Linked DNA regions of Homo sapiens. The protein of the gene in region 3 interacts with the protein of the main gene of each other region in a pairwise test. Each region holds a gene or a part of one and is shown on either strand. Other genes may lie near its edges.

Evidence for each region.
Region 1: the proteins of MTMR9 (region 3) and PTPN3 interact in binary tests that used the Homo sapiens proteins (3 or more experiments, as listed by UniProt).
Region 2: the proteins of MTMR9 (region 3) and EMILIN1 interact in binary tests that used the Homo sapiens proteins (3 or more experiments, as listed by UniProt).
Region 4: the proteins of MTMR9 (region 3) and NECAB2 interact in binary tests that used the Homo sapiens proteins (3 or more experiments, as listed by UniProt).

What each region holds. Positions count from the first base shown.
Region 1 is NC_000009.12:109,418,296-109,425,325, forward strand, and holds part of PTPN3 (tyrosine-protein phosphatase non-receptor type 3), read right to left. Parts: intron 4,558-7,030; coding exon 4,423-4,557; intron 3,191-4,422; exon of another isoform or gene 2,939-3,190; intron 2,306-2,938; coding exon 2,129-2,305; intron 1-2,128.
Region 2 is NC_000002.12:27,081,585-27,086,903, reverse strand, and holds the end of EMILIN1 (EMILIN-1 precursor), read right to left. Parts: intron 4,822-5,319; coding exon 2,893-4,821; intron 2,490-2,892; coding exon 2,373-2,489; intron 1,914-2,372; coding exon 1,896-1,913; intron 1,745-1,895; coding exon 1,607-1,744; intron 1,227-1,606; coding exon 889-1,226; 3' UTR 501-888; downstream 1-500. UniProt on the Homo sapiens protein: Involved in elastic and collagen fibers formation. It is required for EFEMP2 deposition into the extracellular matrix, and collagen network assembly and cross-linking via protein-lysine 6-oxidase/LOX activity.
Region 3 is NC_000008.11:11,301,809-11,308,838, forward strand, and holds part of MTMR9 (myotubularin-related protein 9), read left to right. Parts: intron 1-3,032; coding exon 3,033-3,206; intron 3,207-4,381; coding exon 4,382-4,599; intron 4,600-7,030. UniProt on the Homo sapiens protein: Acts as an adapter for myotubularin-related phosphatases. Increases lipid phosphatase MTMR6 catalytic activity, specifically towards phosphatidylinositol 3,5-bisphosphate and MTMR6 binding affinity for phosphorylated phosphatidylinositols.
Region 4 is NC_000016.10:83,971,242-83,978,271, reverse strand, and holds part of NECAB2 (N-terminal EF-hand calcium-binding protein 2), read right to left. Parts: intron 6,122-7,030; coding exon 6,097-6,121; intron 1-6,096. UniProt on the Homo sapiens protein: May act as a signaling scaffold protein that senses intracellular calcium.

The DNA.
Region 1 (7,030 bases), on a different chromosome or scaffold from region 3:
GCTGGACTTGGGAATGAATGCAAGCCCTCTAAAGTGCCTGCATGTCATTGGACAGAATGCATCCCTCCCCACCTGGCACTGATTGCATAAAGAGACAGAGGGTGCTGGGCTGTGAGGGCACTCAGAGGCTATCCACCTGCCCCATGCCACAGATGAGCAGCTGGGTGAGTGGTGTGGAGCGCCCAGACTGCAAGCAAGGTGATGATTCCAAACCTACTCCCACATGAATTCTGTGTGAAAAATGCACTTTTCGCTTGTAGATATTCTAGGGGTTCACCCTTTAAATGAACGATGGAATAAACGTGTTAGTCTAGATGAGTGCTGCTGACAACACTTTCTGCAGTGATGGGAATGGGCTGTATCTGTGCTGTCCAAGATGGAGGCCAACACTCCTGTGTGGCTGTCAAGCAATTCAAATGAGGCTCATGTGACTGAGGAACTGAATGCCTACATTTTTATTATTTTAATTAATTTAAATCTGAATAGACAACTGGGGCTGGTGGCTGCTGTACTGGACAGGGAAGGTTTAGATGCTGTACAATTCTGTGATGGGACTGCAAACCACCACAGGAAGCTCTGACGCAGCAGGTGTGAGTGGGCTTCCCAGAGCCCTCCAACGCTTCCCTAAACCGTTTTCTCCTTTTGCCAAAGCCGCAGAGCCCCCACTGCAGACTCAAAACGGCTCTAGTCACGCATGCCTGCACTCCTGCTTTGTATTTCTAGATGTGCTTGTGGTTTGAAAAGCTACAAAGTCACACAAAGGAACTCACAATCATCCACTGTAGCCCTGACAAAGGGGCAGCAGGCTGCAAGTTGGAACAAGAGATAGCAATCATTTAGCAAAAGCATCATCCAAGCTCAGGTCACAAGGAAAGAATGACCACAGGGATTATTTAACCAGAGGTGTTAAGAACACAGATAAACTGGAAACCATGTTTGCTGTGGGCAAGGACAGAGGAGAGGTAGCAGCCTCACATACAAATGGGAAGGAGATTTGCAATTCACCTGCAAATGCCTGGAGTCCAATCAGGGTGCATTTGATGCTTTCAGCCTAATAGCTACAGTGGTAAAAAATTTACAGATTAACTAACGTGCCTGCTTGCTAATCCTCAGCTGTTAGGGGGGCCATTATCTTACTATATTTTAGAAATAGTATGGGGCTTAACAGAATAGATACCCAATGACTATGGTTGATTTCCTAACAGTTGATCCTTTACTATCATGCTTTAACCTAATTTATAATCTATGTCTTACCTACTTAAAAAAATGATTTGCGAGTTTACCCCAAAACGTACAGATATGTAACTATGAATCCATTAAAATAAGAAAAAAAAGACCCATATAACAAAGGCAAATGAGGAAGAGAAGGTCCTATACAAGAAATCTGGGCTGAGGGAAGTGAATACAATTGAGCCTAATGTGCAGTTCTGAACTCCCTGGTAACCAAGGCAAAAAGGGAAACAAATGGGTTAAATATATCCTATTGAATAACAAAAGCACTCAACCATCTTTCAGGACAGACATTTTTTCTGTCCTTGAGCTATGAGGGAACTCTGTCACGTTAAAAAAGCGGGGTGGGGGAGGTAGGACATAAAAATTTAACAAAAAATTTCTCAAAGAAAATTAGAGATGTTCTAACGTTTGTTTCTTTATACTAACTATTAATTGAAAACAAAACCCCTCAGAACCCTGTTGTTCGGAGAAGGCTTTTAGAAGCAAGCATATTTCCAATGATTTGAAATCATGTGATGGTAAAACTTTAATAATCTAGAGAAATCAGAGTTAGCATGGCCCTAGAGTCTGTACCTCCAGAACAGGGAATGATTAAACTGGGCTTTGCTTGTGAGCTGGAGAGGAGACTAATTCAAGAGACTAACAAGTACTTAGTGACTAGGAAGTCTTTGTCGTGGACAAAAAGAAGTACAAGCTCTAGACCCCAGGCACATAGACCGTCTTCCGGGTGAAAAGGTAGAGTCTGATTTATGTTCTTATCCTGGCAGAAGGCACCTGTGGGAGCTGGCTGCAGGCACCAGCTCTTGGTTCCTCTCAAATGGCAACCTGGACCTGAGCAAATTCCGCAACAGCCAAAAAGCAAATACCCAGAAATAAAACAACACGAGTTTCTTACTCTTGGTGCGGGCTTCGGTTCTGAGAAACTTCAGAATCGCTGTCTTGAGGGGCCAGAGAGCCCTTGTACGTGTAAAATACATCTTCCGTTTCCGTGATGTAGGTCATTTCATTTGCAAGGTTATCTGCAGAAGAGTGGCGTGGCTTTCGGATTTCGTGCCGGAGCCGAGGACTTCGCCTGGGTGGGAAAAACGTTGAGTGCAAAGTGTTCAAAGCAAATTCCACTTAAAAATTTTATTAGACACCAGTGAACCTCGTGTCCTGACCTTTCTAAGGATGCCTTCCTTGGCGGAGGCTGACATTCAGAGCCGGTTAACTCATTACTACCCCAGCAGAAGGCACCAAGGGTGACACAAATCCCTAACACTCTCAGTCAAGTGGTGGCTCCCAAAACAGTAGCCTCAGCTGTATAAACAGGCAGAATTAGATGGGTTTATGCCCTTTGGGAAGTGACGGGTATTGACTTAAGGGTAAGTTATTCTTCCAGGAGGACTCAAGCTCTCAAAACATAAATAGGCCATATGGACTGCTATTCAGATAATTTTTCTGATTAATTTGAACAATGCAAACAAAAGGGTTAGAAGCCAAACTACATTTCTCAGCAAAACTCCAACCTTATTTCAACGACATCCCTTCATGTGAATTTCACTTGATCCAAGAGAAAATGTTTGCTTTTTAAGATATATCCCTTATTAAACACGTTTATATGCATTAGATGGGCATATAAACACTGGACTGTCCTCCAACAGTGGCAGTAGGCATGTGACCTTGGGCAAGGCACGTCACCTCTCTGGGCCTCGGCTGTACTTACCTGCTCCTGAGAATGAATCCAATGAGGCCGTGTTCTCAGGGCATCCAGTGTGGCACCTGGGCGTCAGCTCCTGCAGCGGGGGATCCCAAGCTGCCAAGCTTTCTAAGTTCTATTTTCCCTCACAGTTTTTCCATCTTCCCTTTCTTTGTTAGCCATTTCTCCTCAGGACTGTCAGGGCCTCCATGATTTGCAATCCCCCTGGGCCTGGATAATCAATAATGCTGTGTCCAAAGCAGAAGTAAAAAGGCTCTTGTGACTCCTCAGGAGAGGACCTATAAATAGCCACAGGAGCTCCGGGCCACGAGTGTGGCAACATCCAACCCCGCTGTTCCCCTGGATCCAGTCCTGGGCTCTCTGGGCCCCTGGCATTGCTGCCGATGAGATTTTCAGATAAATTAAGCTGCTGTGTTATAGCATAAATTTACCTCTTTAGAATGAGGTATCTAAATGTTGGAAACCAAGAAGCAAATCTATTCAGTTACGTCATGATTTCTAACACTAAATACTATCACTGTCCCTTCCCAGAGCATTAGGCCCCCAGTGAAGGGGTCCTTCCCTAGCAGGCCCAGCACAGCATCTCCTCTGTCTGCCTGTCTCCCAGTTTCTCTTAGGCTTAGCAGATCCTGGATCAGGTATTTACAGCCACGCACTCTTACTCCAGTGTGGAGCTGGGGGCAATGATTCCCTGCTAGGTTTCCCCTCTGGCCCCTAGCCTTTTTGGAGGTATTCACAAAAATGGTGTGATGTCTTTGAGGACCATTATAATAAGATAATGATAATTCCACCTGACTCTTTTAAAAGCTTACTACGTACTTGTACATTATTATTTCATTTGCGGTAGTTTTTATCATCTTTTTAGATATGGGGAAACTGAGGCTACAGAGGTAAAGAAACTTGTTAATTAACAGAAGGGCCAAAACCTGAGTTTAGGTCTTTCTGCTACAAACCCAGTGCCCTTCTCACTTTACCAAACGACCACCTATTTCTTTTTAAGCTGAGTCCATCCTCTTAAGTTGGCCTGCTACTTACTGATGTGCATTTGCTTCTGCTGCTGAAGGTCATACATCCTTACATCATTTACATCACGTACCTGCGTTAGTTTTCCCTAAAGTTTATTTTGTGGGATATTAATGGAAAACATGAATTAAGTAAAGCTAACCGTACTTTTTTATTATTGGACGTCTCAGAGTGTTTAATATGCTAATGTGTGCTGTGATTCCAAAGGAGGCCTTTCAGCAGGCTCGAGTTTCCCAAACTATTTAGATTGAATAAGTTTTTTTAAAAAGAGCATCTCAGCATTATACACGATGGAAAACATTTAGCTAGACTTGTGTACTTCATGAAAACAGTTACTTCTGCCAAGAGCCTAAAATGCAAATTGTAGGTCATCTATCTTTAGGAGTTTATAAGTTGAGTTTTTATTTTTAAAAGAGATAAAGTGTCTACTGTTGGGTAGTACAAAAAAAAAAAAAAGGAGGACATACCAGTTGGGAGTAATGGGAGGGGAACGAGAAGGCAGACTCTTGGTTTCTAAGTGCTCCACTGATAAGGATCTCCGCATGGCTGGGTTCCACACCATCCCGCCAATCACCTTTTTGCAATATTGGTTATTTACCGACCTGAAAAACCAGATGCAGGTTCACTTTCTACACTGACGTTCAACAGGAAAGAAATTACTGCATGTGTGAAACAGTCTACACATGCTTCTTGTCTGAAGGACGGCAGGTTAATGCCAAGGTTATGGGGAGTAGAGGGAGACAGCTCAAAAGCGATTCCTGTCTGTCCTGGAATTTCCTTATGTGATTTCTTCTCTTCGGGTGAAAATCCTTTCTTGTCCTCACTACTCAAGCAACAAAGCTGTTTCCAGAATATAACCAAACCTAACCAGATTAGAAGGAATTCCAGGATCACACAGAAATACAGCTCCAGTGATTTCAAGGAATTCTTATTTTATTCACACTGGCCTAAGTAAAAATATTAACCATTTTTTCAGGTGCTCTTCATCATCCTAGCTGGCAGGAGCTGTCACTATAAATCACTGGTAAATCTTTGAGAGAGAATCTGAAAATGCGCTTAGAAAGTAGTTTCAAACTGGGCACAGTGGCTCATGCCTGCAATCCCAGCATTTTGGGAGGCTGAGGCGGGTGGATCACTTGAGGTCAGGAGTTCAAGACCAGCCTGGCCAACATGGCAAAACCCTACCTCTACTAAAAATACAAAAAATTAGCCAGGTATAGTGGCGCATGCCTATAATTCCAGCTACTTGGGAGGCTGAGGCATGAGAACCCCCTGAATCCCCGAGACAGAGGTTGCAGCGAGCCAAGATCGCACCACTGCACTCCAGTCTGGGGAACACAGTAAGACTCTGTCTCCAAAAACAAAAAATTATACAGAGTTTCAGGCTACGTTCTTTGAAATGTGCTACCCTGAAGGTTACTTTTGAATTTTATTTATACCTAGAGAATTTAAATCTTAGCTATCTAGACCCCTCAGAGAATGAATTATTTGAGAGAATAGAGCATGAAGCCTGTCACCCTGTTAAAGGGTGACAACTTTGGTTCTGGCATCTCTAAATTTTAAACTAGGATTTAATGTCTTATGAAAACATTCTACACATTTCCTTGTGACATGACATCAACCAACCAACAAAAACAAAACAGAACAAAGAACAAACAAAAGAACATAAACAATATGAATCGCCCTGTAGCACATCATGTACTAATTCACATTAAGAAATGCTGTTGTCACCCTGATCAAAATGCTCACAACAGCATCACTGGGAGACTCTTTCCTCTGAGGCAGGCCTACATCAGAAACCACACTGCCAGTGATGAAGAGCACAGGATCAAAACAAGGGGAGCAAACTGCCCAACTCCAAGGTTTAATGTGTCATGGGTTATTAATAGGGACTCTCTGAAAAAAAAGTGTTCCATTGTCCCATAAGCTTGGAAAATAACCCAACAAATTTCTTTTTATGTGGAACCTTTCAGAAGGCCCAATAAGCAGATGTGTATCTGTATCTCTAGGGGCTGGGCAAGTCATGTGACCCTTCTAAGCCTCAGTGTCCTCATCTGTAAAATGGAGGTAATGAGACTTGAAATTCACCAGTATGCTGAAGCTGGCACAGGTAGTAAAAGAACTGCTGACTTGTCCTCCCAAGCCATCCTCCCAACCCAAATGATCCCCTGTGGCAGATTAAAGATGACTGCAAGTTCTTTGAGTCTTGCATCTGGGTTGGCTTGTGACTGCTTTCAGCAACAGAGTCGCTGTGCCAGTGCCAGGTCTCACCCTTAAGAAGGCTGAACGGTTCTGCCTTTCGCTCCTGGAACCCTGAGTGTCCATGTAAGAAATTCAACCACCCTCCTGGAGTATCCAGATGGGGATGCTAAGGAGTCCAGGTGAGTCCAGCCTTCCAACCATTCCATCAAGACACCAGGTATGCAAGAGAAGTTATCTTGGATCCTCTGGCCACATTCACTGAGAAATCCCTATCTACACCACACAGAGCAGAAGAGGCCTCTGGCCAAGCCCTTCTAGGATTCCTGACTCACAAAGTCATGAGATATAACAGAATGGGTGTTGCTTTCAGTCACCAAAATAGGGGTATTTTCTTGTGCCACAATACAAGACCAGAACCCAGCCCTGCTGGCATTGGATGCATGCAGATGACAAAGCTTTGCAGATGAAGAAATAGAAGCAACAAATTAAAGCTCAAGTGACAGAGGCAGGATTTGAACCCAGGCAGCTCAGCAACAGAGGGCATGGTTTCAGTTGCCTCCCCATTCCTTCTCTCATCTGGCCTGAGGATCAGGCCCAACCTAAGTCAATGATATAATCCAGTAAGTTATTTTCATGGCTTGCTCAACAGTAGATCTACTGAATGTATACAAATACTAAACAGTATTATAAGAGCTAAAAACTTAATATATTCACTCTTGGTTCATCAGAAGCTGAGAGATAGCATTTAGCACCACAAATAGTATCACTGATACTAACAGAAATTAGCTACTTATTCAGTTTACAAGTTCCCTAATGATTATCAATGTATTAGGAAAGTAACTGGAACAGTCTGATGCAGTTCCACCTATCAGA
Region 2 (5,319 bases), on a different chromosome or scaffold from region 3:
GCGCGGCTAAGCGATCTCGAGAATGCAAAGAGAAAATGCGCTACTTGCCCCGCACTCTCCTGCACCTGCGTCTCCGACTCCCGACCCGGGACACGCGAGGTACAGCTGGGCCTCGCATCTGCAGCCCTGCCTGAAGCCCGCGGTCGCGGCGGCCCCGCCCCGCCCCGCCCCGCCCCGCCCCGGTTAGTCCCAGCCGAGGCCACGCCTCCGCCGCGGAGGAGCAGGACCCGCCGGGTGGGCCGCAGCCTCACGTGGCGGGAACGCAGAGCGCCCCCTGGCGGACGCCGGCGAAACGGGCGTGACACGGGGGAGACGTCGCAGGAGCCGGGCGGGCGCCGCTTGCTGCCTGAGCCAACCCCGAGCCGCCCCGAGCCGGGCGGAGGCGGCGAACGCAGTGCGGAACCCGGGGTCCTCTCCGGAGGCCGTCGTCTCTCCCGCCCCGTGCCCTGTGCACGCCCGGCAGCCCCCGACCCCGTACCGTAGCAGAACGGTTCGTTTAGTTTTTTTTAGAAAAACCAAGTGTCTTTATTCCTCGATCGTTTAGTATGGCGGTGGGCGGCGCCCGCGCGGGGGAGCCTGGAGCCCAGGGAATCGACCTGGAGGGCCAGTGGAGGGAGCGGAGGGTGCGAGGATCGGCTCCTCCGCAGGCCGGCCCTGGAGGGGTTCTTGGGGGATCGCGCCAGGCCAAAAGTCTGCATGGGCGGCCCCGAGCCTCCCTGAGCCGGCGCGCCCCGGGCGTGGGGAGAGGCCGCTCTGGGCGCGGTGCCGCTGCGGGCCCGGGTGCGGCGCTCGCCCAGGGCTAGGTGCCCCGTCTCAGGCGAGACCCCAGGAGCCCGCCGCCCCCGCTGTCTCTTCAGCCGACGTAGACACGTCGGGCGGGACCCCAGTCTACGCGTGTTCAAGCTCTGGGTCCCCATAGAGCAGGGCCCCGCTGAAGATGGTGAGCGGCTCCTCCGAGTGCGCCAGCTGCCCCATGACCAGGTCGACGCAGACCGTGTCCCCGGCCTGCAGCGGCAGGATGAGGCTGAAGACGCCCAGGGTGCCCGGGCTGGGCTGGCTCTCGGCCACCGGCTTATTCTCCAGGCCCTCAGGCTCGTAGCCACCGGAGTCTACGCGGGCCACGCCCTGGTTGGAGCGGGACAGCACGGCCTCCACTTTCTCGTGCCGGTGCCCAGTCAGCACCGCGCTCAGCAAGTAGCGTCCAGCCAGTGGCGCTGTGAACACGCCTGGGGACAAGGATAGCAGTCAGGGGGGCCAGGGAAGCTCCGGGGAGCGCACCAGAACTCCTGGACTGAGGAGGGACCCTCTGGGTCTTTTCACCTCACTGGAATGTGAGCGGCAGGGAACTGGGGGCTTTGTTCACTATGCATTCCCAGCACTTAAAACAGTGCCTGGGCAGGAGCAGGCCCCAGTAAAGATCTGCTGAATGAATGAATGACTACTTCTTCTCCCCACTGCCTGAGAATGAATAAATGAAGAAAGAGCCGGGGTCTCCCCAAATCAGAGAATGAAGATTCACACTGTCGGAAAAGGCAAGAATGGGAAGATATCACTGCACACCTCACCCATTTCTCCAACCGTTCAACCCAGCCCCTCCCAGGACTACCTGTCTCTGGATCATAATAGCCTCCATCATTGAGCAGGACTCTGTCGAAGGGGACCGTGCCTGGTTCAGACCGGGGCAAACTCAGAGCAGCTGAAAATGCCACTTGGGGCACAGGGGCTGCTGGTGCCCCCTCCACTCCTGAGTGGGAAGGGTGGATGTTAAAGGGGATGCTCAGGGCAGAGTGCCAGCCCCCTTCCCCTGCTGGATCCCCAGCCCAGGGCTGCCCGAGGACCTCTATCCTCCAACCCCTAGTCACTTCTCCCTCCAGAATCAAATGAAAGGCACTCACCCTGTTCACCTTGAGGACCTGTGAGAAGAGGAAAGGGAGCAGTGAGAAATAAAGCAGCTCTCACTAAGTCACTCAGCAAACATCTGCTGAGGCTCTCCTGTTGTGCTCGGTGCTACGTGGACTTCAAAGCAGGAATTGGGGTATCAAGAAAAACAGGAATAGGTAGGGTCCATTCTGTTCAACTGCTGGGCCATCCCAGCCTTTCACACCCCAGACAGCTATAATAGACTCAGCTTTAGTCTCCAGTACTGCAGTGGGGCCAACATTATCCATTAGCCTCCTAATACCCATTAACCAAACACAGTGACTATCACAGTTCCTCCTCACTTTCCTCTGATTTTCCCTTATCGGTCAGGTAGTACCCAATTCCCCTTGTCAAGTTCAGAGTGGAATGTCAAGCCTGGGGCTGCCAGCGGGGGTCAGGGTTGGAGGGGGCAGTGGCAACCCTGACTGCAGCAAGGGTCTCAGTGCACATACCTGGTGGCCCGATGGGGCCCTCTTGCCCGTCCTTGCCTGGTGATCCTGGAGGTCCAGCAGGGCCTGGGGGTCCCTGCAGCCCAGGAGGCCCTGGGGGCCCAGCCTCTCCTGCAGGCCCTACAGTGACAAAATTGAGTTGAAGGAGGGCCATAAAAGGAGTTTCCAATGGGTAAGGAAGGTGGGTGGTGGCTTCATGAACAGGGAGAAGATGGATGGAACAGGTGGAGCTTTGCAGGCTGAGGGGGCCATGGGGTCCCTTGCTGCATATGCTGGATCCCTGGCTGGCAGAGCAACATCCTCTCTCCACCCACAGGCCTAGTGAGCAGCCAGAGGGAGGGCGGGAGCTAGGACCTTGCATCATCTCTTGCAGGCAAACTATAACACCTGGAATACTGGCTGGGGCTGCAATTCATGTTGGGAAAAGCAAGGAGAAAGCAGATGAGTTGGAAGCTGGGCTGGGGGAGGGAGAAGAAAAATAAGGGGCTTGAAAGGGGTCCCCTCATGCCTTTTGTCCCCTCACCAGTGAGGTCCTTCAGGCTGAGCTGGTGCAGACGGTCCTCCAGGAGCTGCAGGGAGCTGTTAAGGGCACCCAGCCGCCTGCCCAGGCCCGCCTGTCCCCCGACCAGCTTCTCCAGCAGGGCTGCCTGCATCTGGCTGGTGGTGTTGGTTTCCCGGAGCCCAGCCCAGAGCCCAGCCACGTGTCTGGAAAGGCCCTCGCGCAGGCCCTGCAGTCCCCCAGCCACAGTGTCCAACCGTTCACAGACACCCTCAAGACGGCCCAATCGCCCCTCTAAGCTGGGGCACTGGCCGGCCTGTGCTTGTCCCTCCTCTAGGCCTCGGAAGCGCTCTTCACTCTCTGTAGCATGCTCTGTGGCCTCCTGCTGCAGCCTGTTAATCTCAGAAATGATACGGTCCTTGGTTGCCCCCAGGTCAGCCAGATCAGCGCCCTGGCCCTCCACAGTGGTCTGGAGCTCATTCAGTGAGTCATTGAGGGAGCTGAAGCTGAGAATAACCTCAGAGAGCTCTCCTTGCAGGGCCTGCAGGGCTGAGCCTGAGCTGCCCCCAAACACGCTGAAGCCGTCCAGGGGCCCACGGCTTGGGCCCCCAACACCTGGACCAGCCCCAGGACCCCGAGGAGGCAACAGGGGGCAGGAGCAGCGCTCCACACCATCCCGAAGGCGGCCTAGTTCCTCTTGGACTCCGCCACAGGCCCCACAGCCCTCATCCCCATGGGCCTGCAGCAGCCCCTCCAGTTGGCCTAGCCGGGCCGCAGTGAGATTCAGCCGTAGTGTGAACTCTGCAGCTGTCTCATCCTGGGCATCCACACGATCCTGGAGCCGGCCCACAACCTCTTGTAATCCCTCCAGCGTGGCCTGCCGGGCCTCCCCCGCTGCTTCCACCGTGTGCAGGCCGGAGCCCACCAGCCGCAGCTGCCCCTCACTGTCCAGCACCCTGCGCTCCAAGGCACTGAGGATCTCGCTGACTTGAGAGTCCTGCTCCCCAGGGGCCCCAGAGCAGAGCTGCCCGCATGCCTGCATGGCCCCTGCCACCTGCTCCTCCAACAGATCCAACCGCCCCCCCAGCTCCCCGCTCACATTGGCCAGCAGCCCCCCCAACTGCTCTAGTCGGCCCCGGGCAGCAGGCAGCCAGTGGCTCAGCCCCCCAGGAGCCCCAGGCCAGCTCTCCTCCTGCTCCTCCGAAGGGCCCAGGGTGGAGTTGAAGCGGTCCTCCAGGCGAGACAGGCGGGAGGCCAAGCTGGTGTAGCCTGGGGGGTGGCCTCCCTGCCCCGCGGCTCCTCCCAGCTCTGTGCCTCGCCGCCCACTCAGCACTGTCACTGAGCCGGCCACGACATCCAGCCTGCGCTCCAGCTCTGCCAGTCGCCGGCCCAGCTCTGGAGAGCAGCATTCCTGAGGGGGCCTGCGGCCCACCGCCAGCCCTGCGAGGTGCCGTTGCCGCTCCTCCACCGAGGCCAGCAGCTTCTCCATCGCTCGCAGCCGCTCCCTGTCCTCCTGCTGCTGCCGGCGGAAGCCATCTAGCCCGGCCAGGCACACGGAGCAGGACTCCTGCAACCGCTGCTCCAGCTGCCGCAGCAGCTCCTCACTGGGGCCCGGAGGGGCTGAGGCTGGGGCTGGGGCCCTGCTGCCCCCACTGCTGCTGCTGCCGCCATGATGGTTGTTGAGGTGACCCAGCTCCTGGTCGTGGGTGGAGACGCGGGTGTCCAGGAGCTGCAGCTGGTGCTGGATCTCATTGAGGGTTTCATGCACCCCAGGGCGGGCAGCCGCGTCAGCTGGCTGCTGCCTCCCGTTGAAGGCCGTCTCCACAGCCCTCTGCACATCCTCTGCCAGGCGCCCGCTCAGTCCTTGCAGGACGCCCCGCAGGCCTTGCAGCTCCTTGGTCAGGCTCTGCACCTGTTCCTCCAGCTGCTGCACCTTCTCTGACTCCCCAGGACCTGAGGAGAGGGGAAGGCAGAAGGCAGAGGGGCTGGACCCCAGAGCTCAAGGCCCCTGCTCACCCCAGCTCCAGCAAGGGTCAGATGCCCAGGCTGGCTCTGCCTCTCCTTTGGGTGATTTTGGCAAGAGAAAAAAAAAGAAACTCCATTCACTGAATGCCTCTAGGCCAAATATGAACCATGGCTCTGTTCTTCAATAACTCCCCTGGGGAGATACCATGAACTCTTCCCATCATATAGGCTGGGAAACTGGACCAGAGATATTAGGTGCCTGGCCATGGATCACAGGTTTAATAAATGGCAGTGCTAAGTTTCAAACCCAGACCATCTATCCAGCCCCCAGGTCCATGTCCTTTCCACCTGCCCAGAGTGCCTCTTAACTTCTTGGAAACTCTTTCCTCTTCTGCGAAAGGATAATGACACTCTTCTGTCATGGGGCTGTCAAGAGGGGCGAAATGGGAGTGTAGGGAGGCACTCTGGATGCCACAACAGTAGCTA
Region 3 (7,030 bases):
AGCTTAGGAGAAAATAAGTGATTTGAAATATAGATCCGAAATAATTACTCAGAATATGGAACAGAGAAGGAAGATGGAAAAACAGAGAGGTTAGACACATGCATGCTTAATAAAGGAAGAAGATCCAATATTTATTACATGGGAGTTTAGGATAAAAGATGATAGAGGCTGGTTATGGTGGCTCACACCTATAATCCTAGCACTTAAGGAGGCTGAGGCAGGCAGGTCACTTGAGCTCAGGAGAGTTTGAGACCAGCCTAGGCAACATGGTGAAACCCCATCTCTATGAAAAAATTTAGCTAGGTGTGATAATGTGTGTCTTTGGTCCCAGTTACCTGGGGGTCTGAGGTGGGAGAATGGCTTGAGCCCAGAAAGTTGAGTTTGCAGTGAGCAGTGATAATGCCGCTGCACTCCAGCCTGGGTGAGAGAGCAAGACCCTGTCTCCAAAAAAAAAAAAAAAAAAAAAGAGGAAGACAAAAAAAAAAAAAAGGTGATGATAGAAGAAAGACAATATTCAAATGCATAATGGTTGATAATTCTCCAGAATCAGTAGAAGTTATTGAACCCTTAAGCTGAGGTATCCCAGCAAATACCATACAAGATAATAAAAAAATCTTTAGACATGTTGTTGTTCAGCTACTGAACAATAAAGCAAAGAAAATACCACAAAGTTAAAAGACAAATGACCTGCATGGTGTTAGATTAACAGAGGAAAAAAGTTTGATCAATATCTATTTATGATAAAAGCTCTTAGAGTTGGATTTGAAGGAAATTTATTTAATCTGATAAAGGATGGGTACCAAAACCAAAAACATAAAAAAAGCAAATCTTGTATCATTCTCTCTAAGTTCAAGAATGAGGCAAGGATGTCCATTGTGACTACTTCTAGTCAGCTCAATAAGACAAGAAGGAAAAATACAGGGTATAGGGATTGAAATGAAGGTAGCAAAATTGTCAATATTTATTGATTATATGCTTGTCTACATAGGAAAAGGAAAGAATCTTGAGATCATAGGCATTTCTGTACACCAAACACAATTTTGAAGAGATGCAGTTAAAATGCAACAAAGATTATTGGGTTTCTAGGAATATATCTAAGAAAAGATAGTAAGACCTTTATTGAGAGAATTATAAAAATTTATGGAAAAAATTTTGAAAGCTTAAACAAATGGAAAAGACAATATACTCATGGATAGAGAGACTGAATATTCTAAAGATGTAAGTCATTCCCTCCGATTTATAAAGTCAATACAATCTTAATAAAAACCCCAGTTGGTTTTTATATTGAATTTGATAAAAGTTGCATGGAAGACCAAAAGACCAAGAGGAGCCACGTTACTCTTTGAAGAACAAAAAGGTGAGAGGAGGACACTTGGCCTACTAGATACCAAACTTATTTTAAAAGCTATAGGAGTTACTAAAGTGGACAAGTGCGACGGGATGGAGAGCACAGTACATTTGGACCAACAGAAGCGGCATTGCAGATCAATGGAGAGCCCTGTCATTCTCCAGAGTAGGAAATCAATAATAATATATCATAGTGAAAGTTCAAGAAATAACAGTATTATCATGTTGTTTAGAAATGTAAAGGTAAACACTGAAAAAGCTAAAAATGTTGAAAATGATTGCCTTTGGGGAAAGCAAATTGGGATGGGCTAGCAAGGAACAGATAACTACATTTTTTTAAAAATAATAAATCTTTAGAAACTGTGTTTTTTTTAAATTAATTAATTAATTATTTTTTGAAACAATCTCACTCCAGTTGCCCAGGCTGGAGTGCAGTGGCGCTGTCACAGCTCACTGTGGCCTCGACTTCCTGGGCTCCCGTGATTCTTTCACCTCAGCATCCTAAGTAGCTGGAAATACAAGTGTGTGCCACTGTGCCTGGCTAATTTTTGCATTTTTAGTGGATATGGGGTTTGGCCATGTTGCCCTGGCTGGTCTTGAACTCCTGAACTCAAGCAATTTGCCTGCCTTGGCCTCCCAAAGTGCCGGGATGATAGGTGTGAACCACTGTGCCCAGCCTAGAAACTATGTTTTTAAACTGGTAACATAAATAACTTTGAAAAGTGAAAAAATTTAATTAAAAATGTGATACTGTATCTTATAAAAGCATTTTTTAAAAGTAATAATCTTGTCTGTTAGTACGTCTAACATACTTTTTAGCTTTATCTTCCTGCTATTGTAACCCATGGTTAGGCCAACTCAGATATACAGAACATATTGAAATTTACATATAATTTGATTTTTTTTTTTTACTGTAAAACCTTTTGACAGTGTTCAAGCTGTTTTTAATTCTGATGTTTAAAATAAGTTGTCATTTGATAGTTTTATATTGTATACTTCTAGTCCTTACTCAGTTTGAAATTATTTCATTGACTCCTAAGCTTAACCTTCCTTAGTATTGAGTTGGTACTGTTTTAAGAAAGGTGTTACCAATCTTAGTACATTTTTTACCTTTTTTAAAATAAACAAAGGGTTTGATATAGATAGTAGCTGTGTTCTCATTTGTTCTGGGGATGCATTATCTGGAGTCGTACAGTCTTACTTGTGCTTTAAGAGGATCATTAACAAACTAAATGGGACCCAGAAAAGGAAGAAGTAGGATGATGTTGGCCGTGATAATTGTGGATGTGCTTAATATATTTAACTTGGAGAATAGAACACTAAGGAGGATCAGCTGTCTTTCAAACATTTGATGGGATACCGTGTAAAATAGGGAACTTGTACGGTGTTGTCTGAAAGTACAGTAAAAACCAATAGAGGGAGCTACAGAGCAACAAGTTTTGCTCAGTGTGAGAAAGCACTTTCTGGGAACTGGTGATACCTAGCAATGCAGGAAGCTGGCCCTGAACCATAGAGCTCCTTTTCTCTGCAGCTACTTACATATAAGCTAGAGATCCACCTGTGAAATTCCTGAGAAATGGCTTCTTCATCAGTGAAAGTTGACCTCTAAGGTCTTTTAAAATTTCTCAGATTATTTTGCGACATTGAGATAGTTGCTTAGCTTTGAAGTATTTTGTGTTTTTCAGACCAGTGAATGGAGGCTAAGCTATGTCAATAAGGAATTTGCTGTCTGTCCCTCTTACCCACCAATTGTCACAGTGCCCAAATCCATCGATGATGAAGCTCTTCGGAAGGTAGCTACATTTCGACATGGAGGGCGCTTCCCAGTACTAAGCTATTACCACAAAAAAAATGGGATGGTAAGTGCACAGCACTACTGCTTGATGTACTGAAAGGCTTGGGTTGGGGATCTTTTCGTAGAAATGTTCCCTTTTGCTCTCTGTCTGTTCACTGAAATGATTGTCCAGGTCTCCACCACAAGGGCTTCCTTCATGTAAGCTTTAGGGAATCAGGAGTAGGGTGTTTTCTGTGGTGAGGATGTGATGCTGAATTCTTTCCATGATCCTGCTCAGCCGTATAAAAGCCCTGATAGCTTTATCTCCAGGACACTATACAAAGGAAACTAGTGTTTATTTGATGCTTACAGCAACATTCTTCTGGTAGAAAAATGAGAAATTTCTCTGTTCAGAATAATGGTAAAATACTTGAATTTTTCTTAACAACTTTACACGTGAAAGGTGGAGCAGACGTATTTATTTTCAAAGGTGAAAAGAGTGATGCTCATGTCATTTAGTCACAACTCTAGTAAACACTGGAGTCAGGATTAAACAAGGAGTTAAGATAACTACCTTGTAATGGTGGCGTCTTGAAAGAACTCTAAACCATTCGCCAGGGAAGAGATTAGTATAATAGACATTGATTTCTAGAGAAAAGTTTCAAAAGCAAACATTTCCAGATGTATAGTTGGTGGGGTAGTTTTTAGAAACAAGTAGTTAAATCCTTGAATACTGAAAAGGATGGTAGAGGCCACTGGAGAATACATAATAGACAGTCAGCTTCTGAGGTAGTGAAAATGATTTCCCAAACAATGAGAACAGTGTTTGAACTTTTAAATTTTGCCACTGGTGCCTTTACTTCTTATAATTGTTGTTAAAACCTGCCAACTCTATGTATGTTTAGTTGAAGTCAAGGTTTACTGGCTCATAGGCCATTATTGTCTTTATTACAGGTCCAGGTCTACAGGTATTTGATTCACACACTAAATGAATTGCAATATTTGATCTTAAAGAGGAGATATAATTTATTATGTGACAGTATTTTGAGACAGAGAAATTGTGTAAAAGCTTAAGGCTTATCTTTTATAGTTATTAACTATTGTCAATACATGCAAATATTTCTTTGTTTATGGATCAAATCCATCTGCAGAGTGTCACACAATTGTTTTTGAGATACTCTTAATCTAGCTAATTTCTTTCTGTTTTCAGAAACTTTAAAAGCAACTGCTGTTGAATTTTCAGCTTTATTATGCTTCTAGGTAATTATGCGAAGTGGTCAGCCACTCACTGGTACAAACGGGAGGAGGTGCAAGGAGGACGAGAAGCTGATAAATGCTACCCTCAGGGCTGGAAAGCGTGGCTACATCATTGACACCCGATCCCTGAACGTGGCTCAGCAAACTAGAGCCAAAGGAGGTGGCTTTGAACAAGAAGCTCATTATCCTCAGTGGAGGCGAATTCATAAGTCCATTGAGAGGTAAAAGATTCCAAAGATAGTACAGACTCTTATTAGAAGCTAATTATAGTGGGTAAGGCCTTAGCCATTTGAAAATCACAAGTGCTCAAATTAACTTCTGCATTAATTTAGGGTCAATGATGGGCTAGCCATCTTCTCATTTTTTTTTGGTCAGCTCTATTAAGGTTTGATTGACAAATAAAAATTACATGTATTTGTGATGTACACTGTGCTATTTTGATATACATATACATTGTGAACTGATTAAGTGAATTAACCTATCACGTCGCATAGTTATCATTTTTTTGGATGGTGAGAACATTTAATATCTATTCTCTTAGCAGTTTTCAAGCATACAATATATTAGTTTTAACTACAGTTACCATGCTGTACAATAGACCTACAGAACTAATTCCTCCTAAGTGAAACTTTGTTGTTACCTTTGATCAACATGTCCCCATATCTGTGTCCCTCCTACCCCGACCCCTCCTGCTACTTTCTCTTCCTCTGGCAACCACCATTCTACTCTCTGTTTCTATGAGTTTAACTTGTTTAGATTCCACATATAAGTGAGTTCATGCAGTGTTTATCTTTCTGTGCATGGGTGCCTGACTTATTTCATATAGCATGATGTCATCCAGGTTCATCTGTGCTATTGCAAATGACAGGCTTCCCCTCTTTTTTATTTTTATTTTATTTTTTTGGGATGGAGTCTTGCTCTGTCAGCCAGGCTGGAGTGCAGTGGCACGATCCCAGCTCACTGCAATCTCTGCCTCCCAGGTTCAAGTGATTCTCCTGTCTCAGCTTCCCAAGTAGCTGGGACTACAGGTGCCTGCTACCACGCCTGGCTAATTTTTGTATTTTTAGCAGAGACCAGGTTTTGCCATGTTGGTCAGGCTGGTCTCGAACTCCTGACCTCAAGTGATCCTCCTGCCTCGGCCCCTCAAAGTGTTGAAATTACAGGCATGAGCCACTGTGCCTGGCCTACCCTCTTTTTTAAGGCTGAATAGTATTTTATTGTGTATTGTACCACATTTTCTTAATCCATTCATCCATTGACGTGCATTTAGGTTGAATCCATATCTTGACTATTGTGAATAGTGCTGCAGTGAACGTGGGAATGCAGATACCTCTTTGAGATCCTGATTTCGTTTCCGATATTCAAAATATTTACCCAGAAGTGGGATTACTGGATCTTATTGCAGTTTCATCTTTAATGTTTTGAGGAGCCTCCATACTGTTTTCCACAGTGGCCATACTAATTTACATTCCCACCAGCATTGTACAGGGGTTCCCTTTTGTCCATATTCTCAACAACAGTTGTTAAATCTTGTCTTTTTAGTAATAGCCATTCTAACAGGGGTGAGGTGATATCTCATTGTGGTTTTGAATTTCATTTCTCTGTTGATGAGTGATGCAGAGCATTTTTTTTTTCAAATACCTATTGGCCATTTATATGTCTTCTTTTGAGAAATGTCTGTTCAGGTCTTGCCCATTCTTTAATCAGGTTTTGTGTTTTCTTGCTGTTGAGTTGAGTTTCTTACATATTTTGGATATTAACCCCTTATCCAGTGTGGTGTTCACAAATGTTTTCTCCCATTCCATAGGTTGTCTCTTTACTCTGTTGATTGTTTTGCTGTGCAAAACTTGTTAGTTTGTTCAGTCTCATTTGTCTATTTTTGCTTTTGTTGCCTCTGCTTTTGAGGTCATATCCAAAATAACTTTTCCCAGACCAATGTCAAGAAGCTTTTTCCTTATGTTTTCCTCTAATGATTTTTACAGTTTCAGGCCTTATGTTTAAGTCTTTAATCTACTTTGAGTTGATTTTTGAGTATGGTGTGAGGTAAGGGTTGAGTTTCTTCTGCATGTGCATACCCAGTTTTTCCACCACCACTCATGGGAGAAGCTCCTTTCCCCATTGTATGTTCTCGGCAACTTTTTCAAACATCAATTTACCATAAATGCATGGATTTATTTCTGGGTTTTATTCTGTTCCATTAGTCAATGTGTCTGTTTTTATGCCAGTGCCAAGCTGTTTTGATTACTTTAGCTTTGTAGCATATTTTAAAATCAGGTACTGCGTGAGGCCATCAGGACCAGGGCTTTTCTTTGATGGGAGGTCTTTTTAATCTCCTTACTCATTATTGGTCTGTTCATATTTTCTTTCTTCATGACTCAGTCTTGGTAGGTTGTATGCTTCTAGGAATTTATCCATTTCTTCTAGATTATCCAGTCAATTTGTTAATGTGTAATTGTTCACAGTAGTCTCTTATGATCCCTTGTATTTCTGTGATATCAGTTGTAATATCTCATCTTTATTTCTGATTGTATGCATTTGCATTGTTTTTCTCTCTGTTTTTAGTGAAAGAACCTTCAGCTAAAGGTTTGTTAGTTTTATCTTTCTTTTTGAACAGCCAGCCTTTGTGTTTGATAGGCGAAAGCTGTGCTCTTG
Region 4 (7,030 bases), on a different chromosome or scaffold from region 3:
AGATAATCCCTACCCACCCAGCTAATTCCCACACTAACCAGTAAACTCCAGTACACAGAGAATCATGCCTCATCCAGCTAATTCCCAGACCAATGCCTGTTTACAGATAATCCTCAAACTAACAATAATGCAATAGCTAGCTTTCTTGGGCTCACCATGCACTCAACATTTTCCATGCGTTCAACAAATATAGAGTATCTGCCCCCTGCCAGTGAATTTTCTCTCAATTTACATGGCCACCTGGAGGCAGGTGCTATTTAAGATAACCCACTGTGAGCAACTTGTCCCATGTCACACCATCGGTATGAAGTGGATCCAAAAACCAGCAGCTGGATGAGCCACCACTCCATAGCTTCCAAACGCCAAGTGGTCTCTGCATGCTCCCAACCCCAATCCCAGCCCCTAAGCCCTGACTCTCTCAGCACTGTTCTTAGAGTACAGAAGAACCCTTTCTTCTCCGCCCCATCTATGTGGCAAACTTCAGGTCCTTCCCTGAGGCAGCATGAGATGGCTGCCAATGGCCGGCATGAGGTTCTCAGTTACCTCCTCTCCCAGGCCACAGATGCAGCCATCTAGATGCCAAGCCATGCAGGAAGGAGGTGCCAGGCCTGGAGGTGCCAACGCTCTGGCCAGAGGCTGTGCTTCTGAGGTGGAGCTCCACAGAGGGGCCTCCACAGCTCCTCTGTGGAGGGGCTCTGTGGAGGGATGGGTGGGACACATGCCACCAGTCCCACCCATCGCCTCACCTTTTCCCTTCACTTGCAGTTGCTCTGGGGACACTTTTGGCCCTACCAGGAAGGTCTTGTGGGTTTGGATCAGATTGGGCCACCAGGGGAGGTGGCTTAAGAACATCAGGGACTCTGGGAGGCGGTCCCTAAGCTTCCACCCTCAGCTCCTTCCACCTGAACAGACCTGCTGAGCAAATGCCAGCAAGCTCATCCCCCACCTGCCCTGCAGCCACCTCCCCCCTCCTCAAGGATCTGTTCCTCCTTAAGAGAAACTATGTGAGTGGCATGGAGGTCAGAGACAAGAGGGAGCCCATGACAGTTCCTGGCCCCCAGCCTCTCTGCATAAACCCCTGGCATTACTTCCAGAGGATCTGCATTCAAAGCTGGGTGCTTGGGACAAGGGCCCTGAGAGTCCACATGGCACCTTCCTATGGATTAGAAAAAGACTCTCCTTTCTCTGCCGAGAGGATGAGACCAGTGTCAGTGCACATGTGTTGAAAGCGGATTGCAGCCTGGATTTGAAACCCTCCATTTCCTCGGGTGGGTGCCCTTGTGCAGCGCACAACCTGCCTAACCCGACATGGCAGACGTACTTGGGTTGAGAATGAGTCATTCTTAAACTTTAAAGGCTCCAGTGCTTCTGTCTGTGCTCCCAGCAGCTCTGCTGGAGCTCAACACAGGGTGAGAGCATAAGCTCAGGAGAGGGGGGGTCCTCAGATCTTGCCAAGGTTTCATGCCACCACTTTTCTCTTTAACCCCATAGAGCATAAAGTATCAGAGACCGGTAAAGAATATGAACGTGTGGGCACGGGGGGCTAGGGCCAATATCCCAAGATGCCCCCATCGCAGCTCAGATTTCAAGGTTACAGTGGGAAGAATTTCTGTCTTTCAAAGGAAAGGCCAAAAAAACCCCAATCCAACCACACATGCACAAACCAAAGACCCAAAACCTAACAACTAAAAGTCCGCAAAGTCAGCCACGAGATAAGTGAAATCGAAGTTGTTGCTTTCTGTGTTCTGTGACAGAGGATGCCTTCCGAGTGTCTTCGGCAAGCCTGAAGATAAAACCCAGGAATCCCAGTGTGGAGTCACACCACACGTGGAGTACCTTCCACGGACTCACTCCTTTAGTCTTCTTAACACTCACGACACAGGTAGTACTACCACTTCCATGTTAGAGAGGGGTAAACTGAGGCACAGAGCCCTTAGGGTACTTGCCTAGGTCCTACAGCTGAAGCTTGAACCCAGGCCATCTGGCTCCCAAGTCCAGGCTCTCAACCTAATCCAGGGGTAGGATCTTGTGGCGACATCGCCACCTACCCAGCAGGGGGTGGGTGCTGGCTCAGGCACCCCCACTTTGGGTGAGGGGCAGTCACCATGGGCATGACAGGGGTTGTGAGCCCCAATCCCAGCCTCCCTCTGGCTGGCTCATCTCCCCACGTGCCTGTCCAGGTACCTTGGGCCCCCTCTGCACACAGGGAGAGCAGGCAGCCAGAGACCAGCAAGGTGCCCCCTCGGCACACAGGGAGAGCAGGCAGACAGAGGCCAGCAAGGTGCCCCCTCACTAAGCTTTCGGCTGACATTTATCCTGAACGCCTGATCACGGCCCTAATGAATTCACTAATGAGGAAAAAACATGCCCTACGTAGGCCCCCAGTCCAATTAGACAGGCCAAGCGGGCCCGCGCTGGCACTTTTGCCAGAGACCCCAAGCGGGCCGTTTGCAGGTGTCTTTGCTAATTAGCACAAACTCACTCTCTGTCTCCATGACCTTTCAAATGCCAAGAGCCTGTCAGCCTGTCAGCGTCCATGTCCCTGAAGGGAAATGCTGTCTGCCACTCAGCCCTCTGCCACCCCCTGAGTTTATGTCCCAGGCTGCCAGTCAGGCCCCTCATGCTAACCTTCCCATAGGGACTGGGCATCCGGTATCCAGCTCAGCCAAACAAGTCTCTGTCACAGGAGCCACCCTGACAGGGCAGCCCTGAGCCTTTGTTCCTGTAATCTCTAAGTCCTAAGGGCAGCCTGGGGGGTCCTTTGAGTTTGCACCCCATCTCCCGCTCCCCTGAGGCATCCCATCCATCCTTCCTGTGGACACGTGAGGCAGGGCTAGCGTCAGTGTTGAGCAGTCCTGTGTGTGCTTGTGGGCCTATCGGCCTCCACATCTGCACCCCCTGCACACCTGTTCTCATCCCTGCACACCTGTTCCCATCCCCGCACCCACACCTCCCTGCACACCTGCTCTCATCCCTGCACACCTGTTCCCATCCCCGCACCCACGCCTCCCTGCACACCGGTTCACATTCCCGCACCAACACCTCCCTGCACACCTGTTCCCATCCCCGCACCAACACCTCCCTGCACACCTGTTCCCATCCCTGCACCCACACCTCCCTGCACACCTGCTCTCATCCCTGCACACCTCCCTGCACACCTGCTCTCATCCCTGCACACCTGTTCTCATCCCTGCACCCACACCTCCCTGCACACCTGCTCTCATCCCTGCACACCTCCCTGCACACCTGCTCTCATCCCTGCACACCGGTTCACATTCCCGCACCCACACCTCCCTGCACACCTGTTCCCATCCCTGCACCCACACCTCCCTGCACACCTGTTCCCATCCCCGCACCCACGCCTCCCTGCACACCTGCTCTCATCCCTGCACCCACACCTCCCTGCACACCTGCTCTCATTCTTGGATCCACACCTCCTTGACACCTATTCTCACCCCTACACTCATTCCTCTTTCCCCAGCCATTCTATTCCCACACCACTCCCCTATCTATACCCACACCAAGTCCCATCCCCACTCCTACAAGCTTTTAAGCTGCTGTGTTGAATCAGAACCTGCCTGCACCGCTGCCCCCCGACCATGTGAAGAATATCACGTGCCATCTCCGAGCCTTGTTTTCGTCATCTGGAAGGAGGGTGGGGGTTGATACTTCTTGTCTCAGGAGGATCACAATGAAGATTAAAGGAAAAAGCACATTCAAGTCCTGGTGCATAACAGACGTTCAGTGACTGCTGGCAGCCTCCCCCAGACCGAATTCCCTGCTGAGCACAGAGGAATCAAACCCCTCTGGACAAGCCACACCTGCGGACTCCCATTTCCGAGGCATTTGAGGCAGAGCAGCGGGGACTTATTGATATCTTCAATGAGCGAAGCCAGGAGAGCAACTATCTATCCTCAGACAGCCCTCTGAGGTGGGTGCTGTAATTATTCCCATTTACAGATAAGGAAACTGAGACTGCAGAATTTGGTGACTTGCCTGAGGCCAGAGCCGGTACGCGGCTGAGCCAGGACTTGAGCCTAGGCAGTCAGGCTGGGGGACCTGGGAAGCTCTTGCTGGAACCCGCATCTCACACCCACATTCACCCTGGTGACAGCCCCTAACGGTCACATAGTGGTGGCTGGTAAGATGTAAGCCCCAAGGAGAAGGAACAGGCTCGGCCTTTGAGGAGGCTGCAGTAAGGAAACTGAGAGTCCCACAGCTGTGCTCAGGGGGTGGACACATGGCCTCTGATGGGGGGAGCCTGCAGCAAGGACAGAACCCCATCTGTGCCCGAGGGGGCCAGGCACCACCTGCCCAAGTGTATACACTGCAGTGGCTCCTGCAGAGCTGCACACTCAGGAAGCCACACACGCACACTAACTGCACACACACTCGGGATGCACAGCCATGGCTAGAGGCCCACGCTGGACACACGCATTCCCAACAGCCTCACGCTGCTGAGTCACCGAGATACGCACAGCCACGCTCTCACCAACAAACACGTCCACCAAGTCTACAGACATTTACCGAGGACCTACTGTGTGCTGGGTATCAGGCCCGGGACAAGGGACAAACCCAAATCCCTACCTCTCAACCTGCTGGAGGAGCCAGGCCAGCACACAGGCAATGACGCTGAGGGCTCCGGCGACCCCATCTCAGGGACAGCCCCCTGATTTCCCCTCCTCATCTCCAAGGCTTTTCAGGCCATGATGCTACGGCTGTTTTTCCAGAGCCACTTCATCTCCCTACGTCCCTCTTATTCCTCCTCTGCTCCGTATGGAATCACTGCTGATGGTCCTTCTTCCCCAGAGGCCTGGGAGTGGTCACTGTCACCCCCCAGGGATGCAGGAGGCCAGGGTGGGAGACTCGTTGGAACTGATTCCAGCCCAGGCCTGTGCACCTGCCCTCCCACCATGCCCAAGGCCTCCAACTCCACCCTGCAACCGCCCTGGGTGGGAGCCGTCAACAGGAACTCCCAGGGATGAGGCGGGTGCTGGAGACCCAGGCCAGAGCTGCCACCCTCAACTGCAGCTTGTGCAGGAGAGGAACCGGGGCCAGAGGCGTTGGGGACCAAGGGCCCTGGGGCAGGTCACAGGGTCTCTGTTGCGTGCTCTTCCCCTGCCACAGGCTTGGTACTTGATGTGCATTTTCTCAATGAATGAACATACCGGGAGCACGCGATTCTCTTTAAAAACATTTGTCACCCACACCGCCTCTCTGGCTTTTCCCCAAAACCCAGGGAAGGAGGCAGGGCAAGTGTTATTGCCCCACTTTACCCACGGGAAAACCAAGGCCCAGAGAGGGAATCTGTCTTGGTTCAAGTCCACGGTGAGTTGCGTTGCAACTGTAATAATGATTCTGGTATTTTTAAGAAGGTGCTTTTTGTCAGCCGAGGCTCAGCTGGGCCGCCTAAACGTGCTTATTCTCTCAAGGCCTGGGCTCCTTCTGCAAGTGAAGCCCCTCCAAGGAGTCGGGAGAAGTGGAGCGCTATGAATTCCGTGGCCACAACAAGGCGCTGCTCACATTTTTAAAGAGGCTGAGAGAGAAAGGGAAAAGGGCCCCGGTCTTCAGGAGAGCCTCCGTTTCCTTCATGCAGCTGGGCAACCCTGGGGCAAATTGCTTAACCTCTCTGGGCTGCTATGGTGTCAACAGAGGCAAGAGCACTGACTGCTCAGGTTGCTACGATGAAGAACTGCACCAAGGCTTGTGAAGGGCCTAGCGTGAGGCTGGCGGCTTCCTTTCAAGGAGGGTTTCTGGGCCCCAGCCCGGGCTCCTCTGGTCCAGCCCAGCTAGGAAAAGGCCTAAAGTACACCCAGCCCTTACCACGGCCAGTCATTGTTCTTGGCATCACAGACAAGACTCACTGAGCCCTTGAGTGGAGCTGTCCCTACTAAGTAGGCCCTACTAGGATTCCCGTTTTACAGACAGGGAGGTCAAGGCACAGAGCAGCAGCAGGATTTGGCCTTCTAACTTCAGACCCCTGCACTCCAAACCTTTAGGTTCAAGGTTGCGCTTGTCTCCTATCCCTGATCCCTTCCCCATGAAGCACGAGGACAGAAGGAGTGGGGCGGCCGTCGGCCTGGAAGGGAAACTCACCATTTTTGTCCGCACGGCGGAAAATCTGCAGAAAAGAGAGGCGGAGTCAGCCCTGGGCCAGGGAGAGGCAAGCGCTTCCTGCAGCCTCTGACCGGATACTGGGATCCTTCTCTTCTCCCAGGAGCAGCTTAGGGTCCTGGGAAGCTGAGCCCCCCTTCCCTCTCCCCCTCCCCGGGCTGGGATCCAGGGGGAACTGATGAGGGATGTTGCAGACAGAGGCCCTCCCCTCACCCACGTGGAAGCGGCTGCCAGTACCACCAGCCTGCTCCCAGCCACGCTGACACACACACGCAGGCCCACGGCCATCCCTGCAGGTGTAGGTCCACAGTCATCAGTCCACGTGGCTTCACCCACCGCCAAACGCTCAGCTGCACACAACCACACTCCGAATCAGTGTCCCAGGGAGCGCCACAACCTTTACCACTGCAGTCCTTCCAAAACCCCTGGTGTGTTTCCAGGGAGGTTGGGCAAAGTCCGACAGAGGTGTTTGCAAGGCCTGGTGACAATGCCAGCCACGGGCAGGACTGCGTTAATTTTGGGGTGCAGGAGGAGAAACAGGACGCCAAGAGTTCAGAAAAGCAGCCGCAGACGAAGTTCCGGCTGCATTAGGCAGGGATGGGTGGAGGGCAGCTCCAAGGCTGGCCTGAACCTACAAGACCAGGTGCCTCCTCGTTCTGCCTTTCCAGTGACATCTGAATCCGTGGGACAGAGCTGCTCCCCTTTCCTCAAGGTCTGGCTGGCAGGTGCTGCTTGCCAGGCTGAGGCTCGAAGGCAGCTTTCCGCCCCTTCCAACACCATCGCCTGGAGAGCTTTCAAAACCTCCTCAGCCCGGGCCACACCCCAGGGTGACTGAATCAGCTGCTGTGAGGCCCACTCTGATTTCAGCATTTTTAAAGCCTCCCAGGCCCAATGTTGACACCTGTGCGCTAAGACC